Regions from separate parts of the Homo sapiens genome. Here region 2 is linked to region 1. Evidence: fine-mapped expression QTL. A gene starts in region 1. The other region holds a variant in brackets. All regions are shown on one strand. Distances are from middle to middle. Region 1 holds the start of CCDC91 (coiled-coil domain containing 91). Region 2 overlaps CCDC91 (coiled-coil domain containing 91).

The links. PIP is the estimated chance that this variant, and not a neighbour inherited with it, causes the effect.
Region 2: its variant is fine-mapped to the expression of CCDC91 in whole blood (INTERVAL, PIP 0.96).

The regions. Positions count from the first base shown.
Region 1 is chr12:28,185,576-28,195,619 of GRCh38, forward strand. It overlaps CCDC91 (coiled-coil domain containing 91), which reads left to right and starts at 4,881. Exons shown (of 13, transcript NM_018318.5): 1 at 4,881-5,066. It overlaps LOC729291 (a long non-coding RNA gene), which reads right to left and starts at 5,163. Exons shown (of 1, transcript NR_148936.1): 1 at 50-5,163. RefSeq lists silencers at 4,848-4,897, 4,928-5,357, 6,041-6,335.
Region 2 is chr12:28,234,243-28,244,286 of GRCh38, forward strand. The region is part of intron 1 of CCDC91 (coiled-coil domain containing 91); the gene reads left to right. Among named protein-coding and RNA genes, the nearest start is that of CCDC91, 49 kb to the left of the region's middle. The variant G/A (reference allele first, on the strand shown) is at 4,992.

The DNA of each region.
Region 1 (10,044 bases):
TAATTTGACCTAAAAGCTGCCATAACAGAAGAAACCAGTAGATTAAAAGGAAGGAGGCAGAAAAGTGTTTATTTAAAACCTTCACAGTTTACTGTTTATGTCCTTCTTCTTATATACAAAGTTATAAATCTTTGCTTATTTGATCAGGGTTCCAGCTTTTTTATTTTCTTGGTTACAAGATGACTGCCCTCAGTAACAAGAACCACATGCTTTCTCATTTATCAAGGGAGAGAAAGGAGCCACAGCCCACAATTTTGGGGCTAAAGTCCTGTAATTGGTGCCAATTTGCTCAACCCTGAACAACATCTTGTGGCCAGGGGAACAACGTAGGTTGGGATTGGGTTATCTTAACTGGACTAACTTTGGAGATAAAGGTGAGGTTAATTTCACCTCAATTTCTTAGGTGTACTATGCACAATGTGGGAAGAGTGGAATAAATGTTGGGATTGCAACTACAGTGTCCATGATAATCACTTTCAAAGCATATATATATGTAACAACTATATTGTTAGTTGCAGTTAAACTAGATCTAAGAATATGTAATTGTGTCTGACATAATTTTTTATGTTTGATTCTTAACAAGTTTTAAGTCCGGCTCCTCACCTGTTCCCTTTTGTATGATATCTGAATCTAGGCAACTTGATGAGAAAGCTTGCCTAGATCCAAATATGGTGCAAAATAGGTATTTCCTATTTTGGTGCTGGTGGAAAATTTGAGCCATACAGTCCCTGCCCTGTGTGGGCTTTTTCACCCAAGCGCCATGTCCTAGCCATGAAAAAAATCCCAATAGCTTTTTCTCCTACTCTCTCAAGTCATTTTAAAACCTGCTTAGGAGGTCTGCTGTACTCTTCCTAGAAAGGCTCATTATGTGAGTAATAAACCTTTTTATACCCTGTTGGTGCATATGTGGTATGCTAAGTCTTGAAATAGGAGCCAAAGTTTGGGTGAGGGTTCATCTCATTTCTGTGGGTGACTGCAACAGCACATAAACTTCAATGGCAGTTTAAATTCCTGCAACCTATCTGCTGTGGTCTGAATGTTTTTGTCCCCCCACAATTCATATGTTAAACTTAATCACCAATGAGATAGCGTTAGGAGGTGGGGCCTTTGGGAGGTGATTAAATCATGAGGACACAAGCCTCATGACTAGGATTACTGCCCTTATAAAAGAGGCTCCAGAGAGCCGCCCTGTCTCTTCCACCACATGAGGACACAGCTAGAAGGCACAATCTATGACCCAGAAAGCAGGGCCCCACTAGACATCCAATCTGCTGGTGTCTTAATCTTGAACTTCTTAGACTCCAGACCTGTGAGAAATAAATTTGCATTCATAAGCTACCCAGTATTTTTCTATAGCAGCCTGAACAAACTAAGATACCATCATTGTAGTGTTTCATTATTCTTATCACCAAGTGCCCAATCTTCCTCTTGATGACTACAGCCAGAAACCTGGAATATATCTTCAATTCTTTCTTCTTCTTCTTACTCCTCCTTTTTTTTTTTTTTTTGAAAGGGTCTTGCTCTGTCATCCAGCTGGAATGCAGTGGCACAATCACAGCTCACTGCAGCCTCCACCTCCCAGGCTCCAGTGATCCTCCTACCTCAGCCTCCCACATTGCTGGGGTTACACGTATAAGCCACCGTGACTGGCTTCTTTCCTCCTTTTTTGTTGGCCATGTGCCTTTAAAATCCTTTCTGCCAATTTCATGGGTACCATCTCGGCTCAGGCAGTCATTAATTCCTCATTTTAGTTATTTTATGTCTTCTATCTGGTTTGTTTGTTTTTCTAGTCTTGGCCCCGTCTCTCCTACCCAATAATCCTTCCTCTATACTGCTGCTGAAGTAATTCTTCTCCAACCTTGCTTAACTAATTCAGCAATTTCCCATTACCTTCAGGATACAGTTCAAACTCCTTAACACAGTTTACAAAACTCTTCATCATCTTACATCTACATTTCCCATTTCTCCTGCTGCATACCTGCATACCACAATGTTTGCTTCTATGGTATGCTTACCTGCAAAATATACTTACCTCCACAGTTCATAGACAAGGAAATATATACAAAGGTATATGTTCCTTTTTCTGGAGCATACTCATGTCTTTCCTTAGCTTGGTCAATTCCAATAGATTCTTCAGGACTAATCCTGAGCTTTGATACATTCTATGAGAAGTACTTCCTGTTTAACCTAGGCTGAGTGAGGTGTTCTTTCTCCACCTTTTAGCAATAACCTTTATTTCAGTGTTTATTATCACTGTAATATCTGATTTGATTGTATATTTTTCTAGATGTGATTCTCTTAAGGGCAGGCACCATGTTTTTCATCTCAGAAGGTCACAAACTATTAGGAAAATGGGCTTGCAGATACATGTACAACAAAGAATAATAATTGAAGATGGCTCATGGAAAAAGTATTCTGAAAAGTAAGAGAGGCACATGTTCTAGAGAGACAAGAAAAGGCACAATAGAGAAATTAGAGCCCTCATACATTGCTGGTGAGAAAGTAAAATGGTACAGCCACTTTGGAAAACAGTGTGGTAGTTCCACAAGGGGTTAAACATAGAGTTACCATATGACCCCGCAATTCCACTCTTAGGTATATATCCAAGAGAAATGAGAACATATGTTGACACGAAAACTTGTACATGAATGTCAACAGGAGCATTATTCATAATATTCAAAAAGCTGAAACAACCCAACCGATGAAGGGACTTTGAAAACATGTTAAGTGAAAGAAGCCAGTCACAAAAGACCACACATTGCATGATTCCATTTATATGAAATGTTCAAGATAGACAAATGCATACAGACGGAAAGTGGATTACTGGTTGCCTAGGGCTGGGGAGAGGAGGGAGAAGTTGGGGCCAAAGGGTATGGGGTTTCTTTTTGGGGCTGTGAAAATACTCTAAAATCGAATGTGGTAAAGCATGCATAACTCTGTGAATATACTAAAATCACTGAATTGTTTATAAAGAAAAAGATTACTGTGGGGAAGGAAGAAAGATTTCATGGAGTTGGTAGGATTTGAATTCACTGATAAATAAGTGATATAAAAAGCAAAGTGATGTGCTATAGTGAATAAACAAGCCCTTCTGTTGGGCAGATCTGGCTTTAAATCCACTTGGTCAATTTACACTTCCTAAATCTGTAACCTCATCTAAAGTGTAAATATATTAATATACCTACTTTGTAAAATTATTGTGGTAAGTTATATATGGGATTTAAAATATTTAATCTAATGCCAGGCACATAGCAAATATTAATAATAAATATTAGTTACTTATTATAAATCTGTTTAGTATGGAATACAGTTTAGTATTGAATATCGGGACAGAGTGAACATGTAAGTACATCAATGGGAAGGAACTCCCAGAAACTAATCTGGTTTCCAGCAGAAAGAGATATGAGAGACAAAATAATATAAAGGTAACCTTACTAAGTTTAAGAAATATTTATGAATACCTTTTTTCTAACTACTAGACACTTTGCTAGACTGCTGGATACACAAAGACAAATGAGAAGTGAGTAGATTGCTGGATATACAAGTGAGAAGTGGTCCTTGACTTGGTAGTCTAGTAGACAGATAAAAAAATATGTGTAAGAAAGCATTACATTTCTTACAATAGAAATGTTTTTTGTATGCATAAAGAAGGGGGTGGGCTGGAAAAAGAATGTAGTCAAGGTGACTTGCTCAATACTGAAACTGCTCATTAACTACTTAGGCCAGCACTTATGGCAGACTTGTCAGGATGCCTTGCTAATATTTTCCACTTCCAGTACAGAACAGAGATTACAGGTTTAAGCCAATTTTGTTCAACAGATGAGAAACCCAGTGTCCAAGGATGAAAGAATACTTGTTATACAAGGAATGTGAATATTCCAGAGATTTATGCTCAAAGTCCCCAGGTTAGTGTCTTTCTTTCTCACTAGACTGTAAGCTTCTTGAAGACAAATATCTTGAGTGTTACCTTGCTCACTCTTGAATTGTCAAAACTTGGCCCAGGACTAGGTATGTGGTATACAATCAATAAAAATTTGTTGAATGAATGTTCTTCAAAATCCTTCCATGGCAAAAACAGAAGAAACATTCACGAGTGGACTGCTAGTTGACTGTTTCTCTCATCGCTATTGACAGTCTGAAATGGACAAAGACATCTATATAATCATTCCTTCCTTTCAAATAAATAATCTGTGAATTACGCTATTCTTTTCCTATTGCTTCAGGACAAGCTATTTGACAGAAAGCTTTTAAGAAAGGCTTTGCAAGAAAACTCTGCAACAGAGATGGCACGTATGAATTGCTGTGATCTGGAGTTGAAGACAAGAACAAAAGTAACTCTAGAGCAGAATTCTTTGACCAAAGTCATCTTACTGGTTGGCGGAGGCTCTCAGTCTACTTGCATCCGGTGCTTGAGAGTTCAGACAGGCAAAGATGAGAGGTAGCATCTAGTCAACATCCATTTCTTGAGCACTTACTACATGTCAGCCACTTTGCTTAGTCCCCGGTTTTACTGTGCTCTGCTAGGAAGTGGTGAAGAGATTCGGCGGGATCTTCTTAGGACCAATCCTACAAAGTTCCAGATGGAACTCATTTTGATTTGGGGGACGGTTTACTTGCAGGGATTAGGTGGAGAAACAGGGCCTGCTACTCAAGAGGAATGAGAAACTGTAACTAACAGGAGGTAGACTGGGAAGGAGCATGGCAAAGTCACCCCTTTTCACAGGGCAACGCTCCAAAGACCACGCTCAAGCTGGGGTGGCAGGGCTCTGAACATGGGGCCCCGACCCGGGCCTCGGCCTGGGGCCACGTGACGCGCGTGTTTACGTTGAGTGACGGGCGCTGTGTTGGGCGGGCCTTGGCGGAAATCAACTTCCGGGGGCAGAGGTGTTCGAAGCCGGGTGGTGCGTGGGCTACCCCAACCTGTGTGGCTGGGCCGCGGTCTCCCCTCAAGGGCCTGGGGCCGTGCCTCGGGTGTACGCGTAGGGGTCTGTGTGCTGGGGGTGGCTCACCGGGCAGCGTGGGTGAGCGGCGCAGCGGCGGCAGCGGAGAGCGAGAGAGGGGAGCAGGTAAGTGAACGCTCGCCTTCCGGGGCCTGGGTCTTGGGGTCGGGGCCGCGCGAGGCGAGCGGAGAGCGCCCCACCGGGGGAGGAGCGCGGACGAGCTTCCGCCGCCTGCAGCCCGCCTGCTGCGGCCTCGCCCTTGGCTGTCGCAGCGACCAGGAGTCAGGGGGCGTGACCAACCTCCTGCGGGAACGGAGCCAGCTCCCGGGGGTGGGAGTGCCCACTCGTTCCTGCGCTCGCCGGTGGGTACCGGTATCTGCACGTCCCAGAATCGAGTGTTTTCGAAAGTCTACGCCCACGAACACGTGATTATTGTGTCACCGAAGCGCCTACCGAACGGAGACCTTGATTCTTGCTTAGATTACACAGAACGCGCCTGGTTTATGTATCCCCTTTTACTTTGCCAAGTACATTGGGGTAAAAGCTCTACAGCGTCTGCCAGCCACATTTCCTTAGAGTTTCTTGGGCCACATGTTGCAATAAAAGTGGCATTTCAGGGTCAAGGCAGGAGCCAGTAACTTTGCCAAGTGGTGAGGTATCCTTCGTCCCCGTTAGCACGCCTCCCTTTCCCAACAATAAAGATATTTTCTCCATCTGCGCGTGTCGCCTACTGCGGAGGAAAGCTTTGGACATGAAACCTATTTTTGGCTTCACTTTAAGGAGTGGAACTCTATTAAAAGCTGCGCTGGTGTTTTTTTGGTAGGATGATGTTGCTGCTGCTACTCTCACTTGCTTCCTTGATGAGAGTTGGGGCAGAGCTCGATTTCCTGGAGGGTAAAGTCTTGGCCACAATTTTAGGTGACTCAGCGGCCCCTTATGAATTCTGACTCTTTCCTTCCCTCCCCTCTCAGCTGTGCGGATACTGATGCCACCTTTCTCTCCAAATATTAATCCGGGTGGGAGTTGGATGATGGTTTTTGGAAGCAGTTTGCATGTTGCGTGGTGGAGTTATTGGAGTGGGCTGACATTTTACTTCACAATTTAAGGCAACCCTTCCCCCCCCCACAATATTTAGTTGGGTGGGGTGACAGGGACTGACAACAAATTCGCTGTTGTGTTCCCTGCTGTCGGAGAGTTCTACACTTAATGATCACCTGATTGCCCTCTGCTACAATTTCTATTGCGTTGAGGGGATTGGTTATACTGTCTGTACCTATTAGGTAAATGTAGTAAGGGTCATGCCAGGCAGAGTGCACCTGCATGGTGTTGGCTAACCAGTAAACTGTGTGGTAGAGAATTGCCCTGGTTACGAAGTTTGGTATCCTCCAGGCTGCCTAGGAGGGTGTTCTGTGGGCTGGGAAATCTTATGAACTGGTTTCCTAGCAACAGTATAAGCCCAATGGAATAAACATAAAGAAAACAAAGTGATGAAAGTTACAACTTACCTCTTAACTTTTATTAAATGGAAAAATGTAGCTTCTTATTGGAGTGATCCACTCAAAACTTCTGAGACATTTTTGTTTATTTTGATCATCTTAGTACTTAATAACACACAAAAGAAACTGCAGAAAATCATTCCAGAGGGACATCACTTTGGTTTTGGGTGGCATTAAAATAGAGAAAAAAGACGTTTAAAAATGAGCTTGTCTGGAGCTTAAATGGACAAACAGGAATTTGGTGTAATAGGCATTTTATGTTGTACTCTTATCTATATGTGTCAGATGTATGCATTACATATGATTGTTATGAATGAAGATAGTAGAAGACGGAGTGGGAGTGGAGTAGAGTGGATGGGTGGATAAGACTGGTTCCATTAAGTAAAATGGAAGGGGAATGTTTTAGATAAGTTGTTCCCAAACTGTAGGTCATAATTACAGCACTCCTTTGTCAACCTGTTCCTTGTGATTTTTAATCTTCCTTGAAAGTTTATCAAATTTTCTTATTTTCTGTCCAAACAATGAGAACTTAATTGAAAAAGGCATCTCTCTTTGGATTAACTCTTGGTGTTTATGTATATCTGTTTCTTATTTACTAACGATAAATTAATATTTTAGATTTCCAGTATTTTAAGGATTTTTGGTCTCCTTACTGTTCCTCCCTGCCCTATTCCCATACCCAGTAAGTTTGGTTTAGCTCATTTAAACTGATGCATATTTTTAAAAAGGGCATATGTTGCTTTTTTTAAAAAAAATCAAGTTTTATTGAGGTATGATTTATAAGTAAAAAAGTAATTTTTATTATATTGCTGTATAAAGTCTGACAAATGCATATAATGGAACCACTGCCACAATCCAGACAAATAATATTCCCATCATTCTAAAGTTTCCTCCCCTCACTCATAGGTCCTAGCAACCACTGATCTGTTCTCTGTCCCTGTCTATAGCTTTGTCTTTTCTGGTATGTTATGTAAATGGAATCATACAGTATGTAGCCTTATGTTTCAGGTTTCTTTCACTTAATGCTTTGATTCATCCATGTTGATGCATGTTTGTTGATGCTTGGTTGTTTTTTACAGCTGAGTAGTATTTCATTGTGTGAATATATCATAGTATGTTTATTCGCCATTTGATGAACAATTTTTGGCATTTAGGAATGAAGGTACTGTAAACATTCATGTGCTGTTCTTTGTACATTAAGGTGCAAGTCTTTGTGTAGACATATGTTTTCATTTCTTTTGGTTACACATCTAGGAATGGAATTCTTGGGCCGTGTGCAAGTGCATGTTTAACCTTAAAAGAAATTACCAGCTGGGCGCAGTGGCTCAGACTTGTAATCCCAGCACTTTGGGAGGCCGAGGTGGGCAGCTCACGAGGTCAGGAGATTGAGACCATCCTGGTCAACATGGTGAAACTCCGTCTCTACTAAAAATACAAAAATTAGCTGGGCGTGGTTGCGGGTGCCTGTAATCCCAGCTACTCAGGAGGCTGAGGCAGGAGAACTGCTTGAACCAGGGAGTCGGAGGTTACAGTGAGCTAAGATCGTGCCACTGCACTCCAGACTGGTGACAGAGTGAAACTCCGTCTCAAAAACAAAAAAAAAAAAAAGAAGGAAATTACCAAACTGTTTTCCAAGGTAGCTGTTTCATTTTGCATTCCCGCAAGTGATGTTTGATGTTCCAGTTGCTCCACATTCTGGTCAGCACTTGTCATTTTATTTTTAATGTTAGCTATTCTAATATGCGTTTAGTGAAAACCCATTTATGTTTTAATTTGAATTTTTCTTCTAACATATTGAGCGTCTTTTCCTGTGCTATTATTTGCCATCTGTGTATCTTCTTTGATTAAGTGTCTGCTGAAATCGTTTGTTCGTTTTTAATAGGGTTGTTTGTTATTGGTTTGCAAGTGTTTTATACAGTCTGGATACAAATTCATTATCGTATATATGTTCACAGCATTTCCTTCGAGTCTGAGTCTGTAGTTTGTCCTTTCATTTTCTTAACAGTATCTTTCAAAGAGCAGAAGTTTTAAATTTTGGTGAAGTCCAGTTTATCAGTTTTTTCTCTTATGATTTGTGCTTTTTTATCATGAGAAATTTTGCCTAATCCAACGTTGCAAAGATTTTTTTTCTTATGTTTTCTTCCAGAACTTTTATAGCTTTAAATTTTAGATTTAGGTCTGTGACCAATTTCGAGTTAATTTTTGCATATAGTGTGAGGTAGGGGTCAAGACTCTCTCTCTCTCTTTCTCTCTCTGTGTGTGTGTGTATGGATGCCCCAGTCTTGCAGCACCATCTCTTGAAAAAGACTATTCTTACTGTGTCCAGAATTGGTTCCTTCCAGTGGGTTCTTGGTCTTGCTGACCTCAAGAATGAAGGCACGGACCCTCGCAGTGAGTGTTACAGTTCTTGAAGATGGTGTGTCCGGAGTTTGTTCCTCCAGAAGTTCAGATGTGTCTGGAGTTTCTTCCTTCTGGTGGGTCCATGGTCTTGCCGACTTCAGGAGCAAAGCCACAGACCTTTGCAGTGAGTGATACAGCTCTTAAAGGTGGCGCATCCGAAATTGTTCATTCCTCCTGGTGGGTTTGTGGCCTTGCTGGCTTCAGGAGTGAAGCTGCATCCGAAATTGTTCATTCCTCCTGGTGGGTTTGTGGCCTTGCTGGCTTCAGGAGTGAAGCTGCAGACCTTTGCGGTGAGTGTTACAGCTCATAGAGGTGGCGTGTCCTGAGTTGTTTGTTCCTCCCAGTGGGTTTGTGGTCTCGCTGGCCTCAGGAGTGAAGCTGTAGACCTTTGTGGTGGGTGTTGCAGCTCATTGTTATAGCTCGTAAAGGTGGCGTGTCCGGAGTTGTTCGTTCTTCCTGGTGGGTTCGTGGTCTCGCTGGCTTCAGGAGTGAAGCTGCATACCTTCACTGTGAGTGTTACAGCTCATAAAGATAGTGCGGACCCAAAGAGTGAGCAGCAGCAAGATTTATTGCGAACAGTGAAAGAACAAAGCTTCCACAGCATGGAAGGGGACCCGAAGGGGTTGCTGCTGCTGGCTCGGGTGGCCTGCTTTTATTCCCTTATTTGGCCCCACTCACATCCTGCAGATTGGTCCATTTACAGAGAGCTGATTGGTCCATTTTACAGAGTGCTGATTGGTCCGTTTTACAGAGTGCTGATTGGTCCGTTTTGCCAGAGTGTTGATTGGTGCATTTACAAACCTTTAGCTAGACACAGAGCGCTGATTGGTGCATTTACAATCCTTTAGCTACACAGAAAAGTTCTCCAAGTCCCCTACCCGATTAGCTAGACACAGAGTGCTGATTGGTGCGTTTACAAACTGTTAGCTAGACACAGACTCTGATTGGTGCATTTACAATCCTTTAGCTAGATAGAAAAGTTCTCCAAGTCCCCACCTGACCCGGAAGTCCAGCCGGCTTCACCTCTCATTACTATCTTTTCTTCATTAAATTTCTTTGGCTTGCCTTGTTAAAAATCAGTTGAGTATGTTTGTGTGGTTTGCTTTGTGGACTCTATTTTGTTCCATTGTTCTGTGCGTCTGTTTGGCTAAAACCTCAGTCCTTATTATGGTAGCGTTATAGTGTATCTTGAAGTCAAAAAGCCTGAG
Region 2 (10,044 bases), 49 kb after region 1:
TTCTATGAACACAGGTCTCCTTATTGGAATTTATTGTAAATTTTTCTTAAATCACACCTTTAAATATCCTCTTTAATTTCTAAGTGTAGTGAGACAGTTGCAAAATAGTCTCAGTGGAGATTGTCCTAAATTTTTATAGTCTTGTACTTGACAGAATTTTTTTAAAAAGCAAGTGGTCCTTATCAAACTGTTACAAATAGTCAACTTTTTCATGGAAACAACTACTTCTGCTGCTATCTTACAGATTTTTAAAGATATTTAGTGAAATTATACATTAATAGACATAACCCAGATAAAAATGTTTGGAAACAAAAATAACTGTTTCTTGATAGTATACAGTTCAGCTAATGGGAGCATGAGTGCTAGGTCTTGTCTTATTAACCACTACCCCTTCCTTCACACTGTGAGAATCAAAGGTAATGGAGAGCATTGGTTAACATCATGACACATGAATTTGTTATGTGGCAGATAATGCAAAGAACTTGTAGCATGGATAGTAAGTTGATAATTTGAAAGTTTTTTTTTTTTTTAAAGTTTCAGTATCTTACAGCTACCAATTGTCAGTCTTCTTTTCTATTGTTATAAATAGGGAGTTTGTTCATACTGTAAAATAAAATTACAGTTTTTGTTTGTTATTTATTGCTGTTTAACAAGCTACCCCAAACTTAGCAGCTTAAACAACTGTGTCAATTTGCTCATGATTTTGTGAGTCAGGAATTTGAGAATGATTTTGCTGGTCTTTGCATAACTGGCAGAGTGCAAGTTTGATTAGGTGTTTTCTGTCTTCATGTGCTCTCTCCACATGGCTAGTTTGGGCTTCTTTACAGCATGGTAGTCTCAGCATAGTCAAATTTCTTATATGGAGGGTCGTTTTCTCCAGAGTTAAGTATTCATAAGACAGGAAGTGGAAGGTGCCTATTTCTTAAGGCCTGGGCCCAGAAAATGGCACATATCTCACCCATGCTACTGGTCAAAGATACCACAAAGCTCACCCACATTCAAGGGGAGGAGACATAGACTGCTTCTCTGTAGAAGGCACACCAAATAATTTGTGGCCTTTTAAAATCTGCCAAAGGTTTAAATGGTGTATATAATTAATGGCATTCTTATTTTTAAAATCCTGAGAATATTTCTGGTGGATGTCAATGTTAAAGACTATGGAGGAACACATAGGTCTACATTTAACTGATTCAAATTATAAATGAGTATGAAACAACTAGAGAGAGTAAAACTGACAAAGGATAGAATGCTGGGCACAACTTCATTATAATAAGGACTACTGTAAAGTTTCTATTTATTAATCCAACTCTTGTTCTCCCACCATTAGGTTTCAGTTAATGCCGCATAGCATTAAAAAAAAAAAAAGACGAGGAAAATGAAGCTCAGTAATGTGTATAGATGAATTTGAGTTACAATCTTCTGGCATGCTGCAAATCCCATTTGGATTCCTGGTAACAGACATTTTAGACTACAGTATGAGATAATTTTGTTGAGTGGACTAGGTCTGAGTATCATGTTTGAGAAGGCAGCATTTAAAATGAATTTGACATTTATAAGTATTTTTTTTTTTGGTACTTAAGCTGTGCGTAGTGTTATTTTTGTGTATGAGGAGGTAAATTTTACCTTGGATTGTTAAATATAGTGTCTTATATCATCTGTAATCATAAAGGACAGATTTTCTCAGTAACATTTTGTCAGTGACACAATTTTTCATGACCAGTGAATGCTAGCTGAAGAAACTGAAAATTTTCTGAAATTGTCAGTATAAATCATTTATTTCAGTAGACCTTGCTATGCTTTGCTGTTGGAAGTAAATATAACTTTTCCTAAGATTAGTCAAAATTCACTGAGTTTGTGTCATGCTTTGTTAGATGCTGAGAATAGATCAAAGTTTGATCTCTATATTTTATTTAATTGATATCAAATGAACATAATTAATGATGATGTTGAATTTTTTTTAATACAAGTATGAAAATGCCCTTTCTCTTTGTGATTGTTTGGTACTAGTCATTAACTTTGTTCCCATTTTGTATAAATATTATGTATTAGAAGTTAGAGGCAGTTTTCTGTGAAGAGTATTTCTACTTGATTTTATGTTATTTGATAAATAGATGTTTTGAATAGCAGCATAAAATTAAATGTATAAATTTAATATTATTGCTGTATTGTAATCTTTTTCTGTTTAATTTTTTGGCTTGCATTATTTTAGTCGAGTAAAGTATTTTGTATCTGTTATTTTTATGGTAATATATCTTTTCTTCATATAAAATAAAATTTGAGACCTCTGCATCCAAAATACTAAATATAAAAGTTTATAAATTATATTAAAATATGTCTCAGATTATATAGAGTGATGCGTAGTCATTGTTACCTTCAAATTAGCCACTTGGTGAAATATGTCACTTTTTAGTCGCTAGACTATGTTTGAAAGCTGTAAAATACTGGCGAGCCACAATTTAGGACCACGTAAAATGTGAAAATCGGGTTTATGGAAACAGATTAGAATTTATTTTCATTATGGAATGTTTTGTTTCAAAGTTTGTTGAAAAAATATATTTTGATGTATAATAAAGGTATATAGTATGATGTTTGTGAGATTATTTTTCAATAGTTTAAAAATACTTTTTTATTTTATGTAACAATATAATGGTACATTTCAAGTAAAGAATTTGTTCAAATCTCTATCTCCCTTACAAAGCTAATGATTTTATGTCCCCCTTTAATCTGTTTTATTTGAATATAGTAGGGACTCTTTTTAGAGACTTCTTTTATAGAAAATTGTAGGTAGAAGTGTATACAAGTAAGGTAGTGTATGCTAATGAAAATGGAAAATAGATCACTAAAATTTTGTTTGTGTATCTCATATTATATTGTAAGTGATTTAATTATTTTCTTTGATTTTCATGCAACTCTAAATATATCCCTCACTAATAGTTATGTTTAATTTCTCCCATCCATTTATGTTAATACATACATACATGTGTATTACACATACACACACACACACACACACACACACACACATTTTTTAAAAAAAGTTGTTGTAGGCAGAATAATGTCCTTCAAAGATATTAGGTCTTAGGAACCTGTAAGTGTTACCTTGTGTGGAAAAGGGTTTTTGAAGATATGGTTAAGTTAAGGGTCTTGAGATGGAGAGATTATTCTAGATTATCTGTGCGGGTCCTAAATACTATCACAAGTGTCCTCATAAGAGATAAACAGAGGCATAATCTACAGACATACAGCAGAGAAGACAGTGTGAAGATAGAGTAGAAAGAGATTTGAAGATACTAGCCTTGAACATTAGAGTGATGAGGCTACAAACCAAGGAATACCAGCAGCTATCAGAAGCTGGAACAGGCAGGGCATGGATTCTCCCCTAGAGCCTCCAGAGGGAGCCAGCCTTCCCAACTCTTTGATTTCAGCCCAGTTTGAACTTCTGGCCTCCAGAATTGTGAGAGAATAAATATCTGTTGTTTTCAGCCACCAAGTTTTGGTAATTTGTGACAGCAGCCACAGGAAACTATTATGTGTGAATATACATTTTTGAAATCACTGAAATATTTAATCATAGAATAGGAAGGGATCCCCGTCTTAATTGACCGGCTCCTCTCTTCCTTTGACTTGAACATATTCACATGTGGACTTCTCTACTCTTTTTACTATTATTACATCCTTATACATTGGGTCACAGCTTTAATATCAGCTCCACAGATGAGCCCTCTTTTACTAATTAATTCTTAATTTTTTCCCTATATCAATCCCTTTTTTGTTTTCTGTATCATTCATCATGTACATTCTTGGGGCGAGGAAAATCTTAACCCCCATTGTAAGTCTACAACCTATAAAGAAAGATATATTTGTATGAAACTTAACACATGAATGGAAAGATATACCACACAAACAATTGGTAAAAATATGTACAGTGCAGAGAAAGGACAGAGTTGATATCTGTTCTATATAATAACTTCTTAGATAATGACAAAAAGGAAACAAACAGCACTATATGAAAATGAGCAAAAGATATGAAGAAGCCAGTCCAAATGGCCAACAACATATTAAAAGATGTTCTAACTTACTAGTGTGATATATAACCTTGTATCTATCATACTGCCTCCTTCAGCCCCCACCTTTAATGAAAAGAAAGAGAAAGAGAGAAAAGAACCAGCAATAACATTGTATTGGCAAGAACCTAAGGAAAGAATTAGTTTTTATATTTTGCTGGTAGAAATGTGAGTTACTAGAGCCTTTGTAGACAGTGATCTGATAATATCTATTAAAATTAAAAAAATATATTTATACCAGTTGACCGTGCAGTCTTACTCTTTGAAATCTAGCTCATAGAAACACACTTCCATATATAAGCATTTCTGTATGAGCATTTGTTTCTAGTGGCAAAAACTGGAAATGCAATTTATGTCTATCAGTAGGGGAATTGTGAATGTATTTATTATGTATCTACATAATATATCTACATAATAGAATCTTAGTAGTCATTAAAAAGAATGAATCAGATATGCACCAGTAAACTTGGTGGGATTTGCATGGGGAATTATTACATGAGAACAACTAAGATAATTAAAAATGTGTGTGGCAGCCAGGCACAGTGGCTCATGCCTGTAATCCCAGCACTTTGGGAGGTCAAGATGGGCAGATCACCTGAGGTCAGAAGTTCGAGATCATCCTGGCCAAAATGGTGAAACCCCATCTCTACAAAAGTACAAAGATTAGCTGGGCATGATGGTGGGTATCTGTAATCCCAGCTACTCGGGAAGGCTGGGGTGGGAGAATTGCTTGAACCCAGGAGGCGGAGGTTGCAGTGAGCTGAGATCACACCATTGCACTCCAGCCTGGGTGACAGAGCGAGACTCTGTCTCGGAAAAAAAAAAAAAATATATGTGGCATCTTAAATTAAAAAATGTAGTGATAACACCATTATATATGTAGACATATATATGAGAATACATATTTTTATATGTATGAGAATAGAG[G/A]TATATAGTAGATGGTTAACTTGGACCATTTTAATGGGCAAATGGATGGAGCTGTCATGTTGTGGGAGGGAAGTTGGAGAGGGTATTTGAGGTAGGGAAACATGACTACTAATTTATGCTTTAAAGTTAAAATTAACATTTATGTGTTTATGTATAAAGATTTTTTAAAAATTGCATGTGATGGCATTAATTAGTATAGCTCCTGTGGAAAGTGATGCAGTAAACCCTGTCAAGCAGTGTTCATACTCTTTGAGCTAATCATTCTATATCTGGGAGTTCATATTAAGGTATTAAATTAAAAGAAGAAAAATGTTAATGTGTGAAGTCATCATTGTGCTATTAACTATGTAATATGGAATATTATATGCTAGGAAATATAATAAAGTGTATCCAACATAAACTCATGCTGAAACTTCCTCTTTTTGGACTTTACATCCAGAAAAATTGTTGTCATATTGATGGGATGTAACACACAGGTAAATAATACAATTATGAAGGGTACAATGATAAAGGCTGTTACTTAGAACTATAGACTATATAATAAATGAAAAAGAACTTATAATTGCATGTAGAATTAAAATATATATGTATTTATTTGAGTACTAGAAGGAGATAAGATAAAATGAAAACAGTGTGGGGGGATTATAGTAAATTGTTTTTATCTTGTTTTGACAAATCTGGAGAACAGTGTTGCTCAAATATTAGCAAAATTTAGAAGAAACACTAAAATTTAATATCCAGCTCTTGTAACTGTGGAATATATTTTCTTTATAATAAAACAATTTTGTAATTTTGCATAGGCATTGGCAGAATGTTTAAATTTGGAATCAGATTGGTATTTCTGTCAATACTTACTCTGAAAGCTGCAGTGTCATCATGAGTTATTAAAGATAAATCTTTGGTTTCATGTGCCATATTTCTTACTAGGAGTAAAACTAGGTCTAAGTCCATTTTACGCTTTCTAATAGTTTCCTTTTATCTGTTGATTCCCTCTTATGCATGTTTTCTACCGTTTTCACTGTATTCTTGTATTAATCACAGTTTTTAAAAAGTTTTTGTCTTAATGCTTTAACGAATAGATTATCTCTTGGTCTAGTTTTATTGATTACTTCTTGACTTTTTTTTCCTTTTTGTTTATCTCACAATTTTTGTCACCCACTGTAAAAAACTGAGATAAATTATATTTATTCTCTGAAATGGGAACACCTATTCTTCTGTCAGGTCATTGGTTTGTGTTTCTAAAATATACTAAACTAATGTGTTATGAAGCTAAGGCAGATAGGTGATAAATTTGTAAAGCAATTGAAGGAAAAACTCAGTAAGTCAAAACACATTTTAAAAGAGACACGTTTAAAGTTTTTTTTATATAAATGGAATCGTGCATTATGTGACCTTTTGGGATTGGCTTTTTTTTTTCACTCAGTGTAATACCTTTGAAATCTCTCCAACTTGCATGTATCGGTAGTTCTTTCCTTTTTATAGCTGATAAGTATTACAGTGGTAGAGATGTGGCACAGTTTGTTTAACCATTCACCTATTTTAGGACATTTTGGTTGTTTCCAGTTTTTGGCTATTACAAACAAAGCTATGAACAATCATGTACTGATTTTTGTGTGGACATAAGTTTTCATTTTCCTGGGATAAATACCTAGGAGTACAATTGCTTGCCCTTATAGGAGGTATATATTTAATTCTTAAAGAAACTGAACAACTGTTTTCCCAAGTGATCATACTGTTTTACATTCCCACCAGAAAAAGTGGATCTTTCAAACCACAAATGTTTGAAAGAGCCACTTTCTCCACATCCTTGCCAGCATTTGGTATTGTCATTACTTTTTATTTTTGCTAGTCTGGTAGGTATGTGGTGGTGTCTCATTGTGGCCTTAATTTCCATTTCTCTAAAGATTGGTGATGTTTAACATCTTTTTATTTGCTTAGTTGCTATCCCCTTTGTATATCTTCTTTGGTGAATGTCTCTATCTTTTGTCTATTGAAAAGAACATGCTTTCTTTTCATATGTGCATGGAACCTTCACCAGAATAAACCATATCCTTGGTCATAAAACAAATTTCAGTAAATTGAGAAGCATTTCCTGTTCTTTTTTCCTGAAAAAGTTTGTGTAGAATTTGTGTACTATCTACTGACTCCTGGTATTTGTCTGGTTTCAGAGGGTGGGAGGGTTTTCTGCCTTTCCCCCAAGTGGCAGCTTGCAGTTTTGCTTTGTATGAAGAATAGTTCTAGGATATGAGTAGCTAATCATTTCCTTCATTCCTGTACCATAAGAAAAACTCTCTCAGGTAATCTAATCTGTCCTCATCTTTCTCTAGAGTTCTCGATGCGCATTTGGGTTGTTTGTGGGGTTTACTATTGCAAACAGTGTTACCATGAATATTCTTGTGCAAGACTTTTGGTATCCGTGTGTGAGAGTTTCTCTAGGGCATGTTACTAGAAGAGGAATTTCTCAAAGTATACCTGTGTTCTTGCGGGGCGTGGTGGCTCACACCTGTAATCCCAGCACTTGGGAGGCTGAGGCAGGCAGATCACCTGAGGTCAGGAGTTCAAAATCAGCCTGGCCAACATGGCAAAACCCTGTCTCTACTAAAATTACAAAAATTAGCTGAGTGTGGTGGTGGGCACCTGTAATCCCAGCTACTTGGGAGGTTGAGGCAGGAGAATTGCTGGAATCCAGGAGGCGGAGGTTGCAGTGTGCTGATATAGCGCCATTACACTCCAGCGTGGGCGACAGACCGAGACTCCTTCTCAAAAAAAAAAAAAAAAAAAAACGAAACAAAAAAAACTCATATTAGGACTGATCACCTTGTTATCATATAAAGTTGTTATAATATACTGTCATATTAAATATACTGTCATATTTTTCTTCTAATTTTGTCTTGAGGTCTCTCAAGTGGCTGTAAACTCTAGCCCTGCCCTGAGGGGGTGCCAGGGGATTTGGTCATATGATGCTTATAATGGGCCTTTCACAGGATACTTCTTTATCCCTGTGGACAGCCTAAGTGTTTGACATGTGACCCAGATGTCCTTCTCATTACAAACAAAGAAGCTTGTTTATACTGGCAGGTGCCCTTTTGGCGCTTGCCTGACTTGTGTCCAGTTTATTCTTAACAAGTTAGCTATTCTGTAGGAGAGCCCTGACCAGGAAAGGAGTTAGATTTAGATGTGTTGGTCAGGTGAGACACAGAGGAGGCAGCACAACCAAACATAGGAAATAACAGAAGCAGTATATTACTTACGGATCCCACAGAAAAGAGGGCAGCATGTTTCTCAGGGCCAGATGGGAAAGGGGAAGCCATCTGGGACTTGGAGGCTCCACCAGTGGGTGGGGAGAGAGAGAGAGAGAAAGAGAGGGAGAGAGCAAGGAACCTGTGAGTCAAAGCCATTATTGGGGTCTAGGTTGTTATCAAAGAGTTTCCCTGCAGGGAATTCTAACTGTGGGTGACGTGGTTTGGATCTGTGTTCTCACCCAAATCTCAGGTCAAATTGTAATCCCCAGTGCTGGAGGTAGGGCCTGGTGGGAGGTGCTTGGATCATGGGGACAGTTCCTCACGAATGGTTTAGCACCATCCCCTCTGTGTGGTGCTGTTCTTGTGATAAGGAGTGAAGTTATCCTGAGATCTGGTTTAAAAGTGTGTAGCGCCTGCCCCCCTCTTGCTCCTACTTCTGACATGTAAGAGGTGTCTGCTTCCCCTCTGCCTTCTGTCATGATTGAAAGTTTCCTGAGGCTTCCCCAGAAGGCAAGCAGATGCCAACATTGTTTCCTGTACAATCCTGTACAACCTGCAGAACCGTGGGCCAATTAAACCCCATTTCTTTATAAATTACTCAGGCTCAGGTATTTCTTTAAAGCAATGTGAGAACGGACTAATACAGTGGGTTTACAGCAAACAGACTTCATTTCCTTGGTCACGCTGTGACTGAGAGATGGTCACTGCAGCTTATCTGGGCAGTCCGTGCAGGGTATGGGAGTCAGTAGGGTGAGTCAAGTAGGTTGTATCCAGCTGTCCCATAGGGAAGTGGTTACTGGGAGGCGATCGTATAAGGTAGATATCTGGAACAACAACATAGAGGAACTGGGTGGAGGCAGACAACTGGAAACTGTGTCGAGTGTGACTAAGCCCAGTTTCTGATATGAGAAAGTTAAACATGTTTAAAATGTATGCCAAGGCAACATAAAATTATTAGAATTCACTACATTCACCAAAAATATATAACATCAAACAGGTAGCAAAATTTGATAGATTGGTATACGTAAATTAGTACCTCTCCTATTAAAGTGGGAAATTTTAAATTAACATTTGTGGTTATTGGTAGATAAAAAAGTCAGCAAAGGGTATACAATATATGAAGAATACAGTTCATGGACATATACAGAATTCAATATATAAAGAATGAAAAAGAGATATATAACATAAATCAGAGATTAAAAGGAAAATGAGAATACTGTTAATTATATGTGACCTATGTAAAAATAGACATTTCTAGGAAAATATTACTTGTAAAAACCGAGGGAGAAATTAAAAGTCTGAATCTTCCCACAAAGAAAGCAACAAGCCCAAGTGATTTGCCAATAAATAAGTCTCTACCAAAATTTTGAGGAATAGATTATTCCAATCTGTTGCAATCTTTTAAAATTAATACAAACAGAGGATAATTCCCCAGCAAGTTCTGAAAGCCCAGCATAATCCTGACATCCAAATCAAATGAAGACACCAAAACAGATGACAATTACAGATGTATTTCACTTTTAATATAGAGCTGGTAATCCCAAACAGGACAGTAGCAAATTGAAACCAACATTTAAAGAAGACAAACATCATTGCCAAATTGGATTTTTCCCAGGTATGCAAGGATGATTTACTAATAAATGATCCATAAATGTAAGCAACATTTACATTGATAGATTAAAAGTGAAAAACTGTATAATTAAAATAGATACAGAAAATCATTTGATAATCAGCATAAATTCATGATAAGAATGCTTAGCAAATTAAGAAAAGAGGGAACATCTCTAAACTGTCAAGAAATATTTAAAAAA